2 separate regions of the Homo sapiens genome follow, and region 2 is linked to region 1. The links come from fine-mapping of genetic effects on gene expression. A gene starts in region 1. The other region holds a variant in brackets. All regions are shown on one strand. Distances are between the middles of the regions.

Region 1 (2,904 bases):
AACAGAGAGAGGTAATATTCCCAGAGCCCCTATCTACTATAGCCACAATATTTAGCTGAAGGAAAGGAATCCAACACTTTATCTTCCACAATCTGTTTTCATGGACTCAGAGAATATAAAGGCCTGGAAAAGGCCTTAGAGATAACTGAGTGTACTCTTTTATTTTACAGATCAGAAAACAGACCTGGAGAGGGGTTAGGGTTTATTTGCTCCAGTCCCAGGGAAGATCATGAGTGAGCCCCCAAACTCCCACTTTTCGGGCTTCTCCCATAACATATCCCCTTTCTTCCCTCACAGAAGAAATCACTCTCCTGAATTTATCTTTTTTTTTTTTTTTGAGACGGAGTTTCGCTCTTCTTGCCCAGGCTGGAGTGCAATGGCGCAATCTCGGCTCACCGCACGCAACCTCTGCCTCCAGGGTTCAAGCGATTCTCCTGCCTCAGCCTCCCTAGTAGCTGGGATTACAGGCATGTGCCACCACGCCGCGCTAATTTTTTTTTTTTTTTTTTTTTTTTTTTTTTTTTTTTTTTTTTTTTTTAGCAGAGACGGGGGTTTCTCCATTTTGGTCAGGCTGGTCTCGAACTCCGGACCTCGAGTGATCCACCCGCCTCTGCCCCCACAGACTGCTGGGATTACAGGCGTGAGCCACCGCGCCCGGCCTTCTTGAATTTATCTTAATCATTTTTTTGATTTTCAATTCTCCGTAAGTATGCCCATTTTCTTCTCTTCTTGCTACCATTTTTACTGAAAGAAATAAAAAGGGAAAGAGAAAAAAGTGAGAAGGGCAGCTAAGAAGGTAAAAGGGTAGGGAGGAAGGGAAGAAACAGAGAAAGAAAAGTCCCGTCTGCCTGTGGATTAACGTGAAACTGAATAACTCAACTGCTAGAATCCTGGTTTGAGCGTCAAGATGTCTGAGGTCAAGTCCAATCCCTGTGACACTCTCAGTCTCGCCTCCTGGCAATTAAGTTTCCCCAACTATAAACCCATATATCTACATCCACCAGATCCCGCGAAAGCGGTTTCCCCTCATCAAAGAAGTCCGCCCAGGCCTCCAAAACCATCCCTTTATTCTCAACCAACATGGCGACTGAGGGTGACGTCAACTTCCGTCGCCTTCACCCTACTCCCTTCCCCTAGGGGGCGGCGAGCCTCAATGACGGCTGCGGCCGGGGCGCATGCGCGGCGGCGGGGCCCGGCCCGCGGCGGCGGCAAAGGGGCGGAGGGGTTCGCTGCCAGCAATTGCCAAGCTGCTGCGGTCGTGGCGGGATGGTATAGCCGGGCCTGAGGGCGGGCGGCGGGGCGCGGGCGGGGGCGAGGCGGCCGGGAAGGGCCGACGCCGCCTGACTGGCTTGGGAGCAGCGGCAGCAAGCTGAGGGGGCGTCGCCGCCGCCGGCCCCCGGCGCCGCCGCGGGAGGCCGCGCCCGCCATGGCGGCCCGGGCGGTGCTGGACGAGTTCACTGCGCCAGCTGAGAAGGCGGAGCTGCTGGAGCAGAGCCGCGGCCGTATCGAGGGCCTGTTTGGCGTGAGCCTAGCCGTGCTCGGCGCGCTAGGGGCTGAGGAGCCGCTGCCCGCGCGCATCTGGCTGCAGCTCTGCGGGGCGCAGGAGGCGGTGCACAGCGCCAAGGTGAGTCCGGCCGCCGCCCCCGCGCGCCCGCGGCCTCGATCGGTCCGGGTCTCCGGGCTCCCGCTCCTCCCCGCCCCCGCCGTCCGCCGCGATGCGCCTGGGTTGGGAACGCAGTCTCGGGAGCCAGCGAACGTGCCTTTTCGGCTCGCGAGCCATGTGACCTTGGATAGCGGCTTGATCCCCGGAGCCTCAGTTTCCCCATTTGTAAAGTGGCGCTGACGAAAGTACCTACCTCAGAGGGCTGTCGCGAGGATGAAAGTGGGGGATGTGTATGAAGCGCAGGCACAGCGTGTGGCACGGATCGGGTGCGCTGCGCATGTCGCCTGTTGTTGTCAGTTCCCCGGCCCCCAGGATGGTACGCAAGGCCTGTTGCTGGGCCCGCAGCCTCGTCCACCACCTAAGCCTTTATCCCCCAGTCCCGGGCCTCCACTACTGCAGTTCTGAGCCTTTTTGGGATCTCAGTTCCTCTTGAGAATCGGAAAAAAACTATTAATAGTAATAAAACGCTCGGAGAATGTCAGAAAGAAAGGATTTATGTTTACCTATTTTTTTCTATTTGAGACAGGGTCTCACTCTGTCACCCACAGTGGAGTGCAGTGTGGCGCGGTCTCAGTTCACTGCAGCCTCGACTTCCCGGGCTCAAGTGATCCTCCCACCTCAGCCTCCCGAGTAGCTAGTACTATAGGAGCGCGCCACCACGCCCGGCTCATTTTTTTTTTTTTTTTTGGTAGGGGATTTCACTATGTTGCCCGGGCAGGTCTCGAACTCTTGGACTCAAGTCATCCTCCCATCTCGGTCACCCAAAGTGCTGGGACTACACGCGGGAGCCACCCCGGCCGGATATTTAATATGTTAACAAAAAATAGCGTTATTCTTTGTATTGATATTACCTACAACTAACATTTACATAACGCTTAAGAACATCACAGGTTGCTTCAGAAGGAATGTGCAGCCCTTATGGCTTCTAATAAGGTAGATTTTATCCTCCCCACCACCACCCCGCCTTTTTTTTTTTTTTTAATTAACAGCTGGGGAAACTGAAACTCAAAGTGGTGACTCACCTTCTGCCTAAATCAGCATTTCAGACCTCTTCAGCACCTCTATCTACTTCCCCCCCTTTCCAAACCAAAAAGCAACACAGTATGTTGCTCCTCCTAGGTAACCAAGTTTCTCTAGGTTTTTCCATCTCCTAAGTAGGGCAGCAGGATTCAGACCTAGGGAGTTTGTTTCCAGAGCCTTCGTTCTTGATACTTGCCTCTCATATGATGAGCCCTGTCTGC
Region 2 (2,904 bases), 66 kb after region 1:
GTGTGAGAGCTCTCCCTCTGAATCACGAGTGCCTGATGGGGTCATTTTGTATGTGTGAGTGTCTTTTTACATTCACTTTCTAAAGTCATTTGCTTTGAACATGTTATGCTTATATTAATTTCCTTACTGCTTAGGAATCACTGCCTGGGGGAACTGACCATTACTTTCTACCTTCACTGAATGGAAAAGCCAGTATTCAATATTTATCTGAAAATGATTTGGTAGTTTAGGTTTTCTTTGTTGTAGTTGGGGTTTGTTTTGTTTTTAGGACACCTTGTTAGTGGTTGTTTCTGTTTTCATAATTCTTAGGTAACAGACATTAACTAAAGATTCCTGTGAACCTAACAGGGAGATCATATGACCCCATGACTGATGTTTACTCTTTTTAAAAACTAAACCAGGCTGCACTTCTGTGCATTCCCAGCTGGTATTTGCATGGGGGTGTGATGGGGGGTCTAAGCTGAGAGGAAGACACACAGCTCTCTCAGCATTTTTAGGCAGTCACACTTTCCAGCTGATCTTTTCCATTTGCAACAGGAACCACTGGGAGCTGTAGGTTTGGATTCAGTGGTAGGTGGTGATGGGTTTCTTTTTTTACATGGTGGTCTCTTCTACCTAGGAGACCACTACAATTTCAACTCCCTGGTCTTGTGAATCATTTCTCTTTTGAGCCTTTGGGTTTTATGACACAGACGAGGACTTAATTCCCAAATGCCATGCTTTTCTACCCACATGAAGAGAATGGCAGCCATTTTCCACACCTGCTGTGCTCATCAGTCCATCTCATTTTGCTTCCCCACATCTGAACTTGGAAATCCCCTGCTGGGCTTCAGGCCCGAGGCCTGTGTCAGAGCATCAATCAGGTCCGCGGGTCAGAGTTACCAGAAGGAGAGTCCTCTGCTTGCTCCTGCTCCTTGAGCAACCTGGCACGGGGTCTGTCCTGCCTGCCTTTTCACTCTCACTTGGTGGCTCTTTGTGGAGCGGCTCAGAAATCGGTTAAGAAGTTGGGAATCACTTCCATCACAGAGGGGCTGTTGAAGTTAGTTGAGCTTTTGAAGTTGGGGAAACTTCAGCTAGCCTCATTTCTCGCCTGCAGGCCGAGTCCAGTGGGAGGCTTTTGAGCGATACAGATGCCCTCCCTGTACACACATACTCGCACATACCCATGTGCATACAAGTGTGGGCACCCACCCACACCTCATCTAGACTGAGTCGGTGGGGACTGCCACTCTCCCCAAAAGGAGTCTCTTCTAATTTCTATTAATCAGGGTCCTGCACAAAATCAAAATCTTCAGAAGAGTAAGACACTGTTAAACCTTTTGAAAGCTCCCAAGGGTACCCTGGTTAGAGCCAAACAGCTGGATGGGGTCAGTCCTCACAGCAGAAGACCTGGGAGGGTGGTGCTCCCTCATAGAGCGCATTGATTCCCTGGCACGCCTTGAGGTGATGTCAGTGAAATCCCCGCAGGCTCCTCTGTGGGTGTCTCATGGCACCATCTCCACCTCAGTCTTGCATCCTGCCTTTGGAAGCCAGGGAGCGGCATCCTGAGCCTCAAGGCCTGCCGCAGGTACCTTCTAAAATAGCTCTATGATTTTTTGTTTACTTATAACCCAACTCACCAGGACTCACTTCCATTCACAGAGATATGCAGCCCCTACTCAGTGCCCTGCCAAATGTGGGCATGTTTGACCCCAGCTTCAGAGTCCCTGGCACCCAGGCAGCCAGCACCAGCCACCAGCCTCCGACCC[G/A]GATTCAGGGAGCCCCTTCAAGCCACTGGCTCCCTCAGCAGCCCCACTTCCCACTGCTGCCAGCCCTCCCCAGTCTCCAGCAGAACCTGCCCATGCCAGCTCAGAGATCTTCTGCAGAAACCAACGAGCTGAGGGAAGCCCTTCTGAAGATCTTCCCTGACTCAGAGCAAAGACTGAAAATAGACCAGATCTTGGTGGCCCACCCATACATGAAAGATCTAAATGCGCTTTCTGCCATGGTGTTGGATTGAAGATTGTGCTGAGCGCTGAGCTTGCGCTCAGGGCTGGCTGATCAAACTCAAGCTCACACCTGTACCTGATGGGAATGAACATAATGTGAAGAAACTTATTTCCCAGTGTAAACGCAGTTGTACAGAAAAAAAATGTTTTGGGTATAAATCTGGGTTTTCAAAACCAGCTTTTTTCTATATATAAATTATGCTGCTATTACAGATTTAACATTTTCTGTTAAAGGAAAGTCTACATTTTCTGCCTGTTCAGAACTGTTTAATAGCAGTTACTCTTGAGTGTATTTACCTTTTTATGTTTTTTAAACTATTTTCCTTAAAGCCGAAAATATTGACAAATGGATATGGTTAGCCTTTATAAATAAATAAAAAAAAAAGTGTTGCTTTCTTAAGGAAAGCAAGACGTCTTAAAGTATATTTTCTTGAGATGAGTATGTCCCATCACTACCATGAAGTGTGCTCACCCTTCCAGCCTCCTCTGCCCTCACCCCCGGAGTTAAAGTGGGTAAGAGTTGGTTTGTTCTGCAGTCTTTGGTTGGAGTGTTGTGAAAGTGGACCCGCGGTGCCACTAGATGGCACTTGGTGCCTAGCCATGGTGAATGACCAGGGCGAAGTTAGTCTCACAGAATACCAGGGCTAGAAGACATCGTGGAGCCCATGGAGTCCCACCCTCCTTCCCCCTTCCACCCTGCGCAAAAGGGGACGGCCCAGTGTGCACGCCGTCCGGCCATGCCCACAGCCACAGCCACAGCTGAGGAGTGGCCGGGCAGGCAGCAGGCTCCCCAGCCAGGGCTTGACACGCCCACAGTCAGGGGCCTCCACATGCCTGGCCTGGCTCTGGAAGTCACGTCTTAGCTTCTGAACACCGTAGCGGGTTATGAGGAAGTTTAATGAAGAGCCCGGTCACT

What was found. PIP is the estimated chance that this variant, and not a neighbour inherited with it, causes the effect.
Region 2: its variant is the best candidate, but not a certain one, in a credible set for the expression of N4BP1 in whole blood (TOPMed, PIP 0.69).

Annotation. Positions count from the first base shown.
Region 1 is chr16:48,608,495-48,611,398 of GRCh38, reverse strand. N4BP1 (NEDD4 binding protein 1) reads left to right here and starts at 1,219. Exons shown (of 7, transcript NM_153029.4): 1 at 1,219-1,624. The coding sequence starts at 1,427. It overlaps LOC124903687 (a long non-coding RNA gene), which reads right to left and starts at 1,089. Exons shown (of 2, transcript XR_007065063.1): 1 at 881-1,089; 2 at 186-744. RefSeq lists enhancers at 949-1,028, 1,039-1,088, 2,039-2,088 and a silencer at 1,129-1,728.
Region 2 is chr16:48,541,999-48,544,902 of GRCh38, reverse strand. N4BP1 (NEDD4 binding protein 1) reads left to right here. Exons shown (of 7, transcript NM_153029.4): 7 at 1,642-2,904. The coding sequence ends at 1,999. Among named protein-coding and RNA genes, the nearest start is that of N4BP1, 67 kb to the left of the region's middle. RefSeq lists enhancers at 2,281-2,781, 2,782-2,904. The variant G/A (reference allele first, on the strand shown) is at 1,749.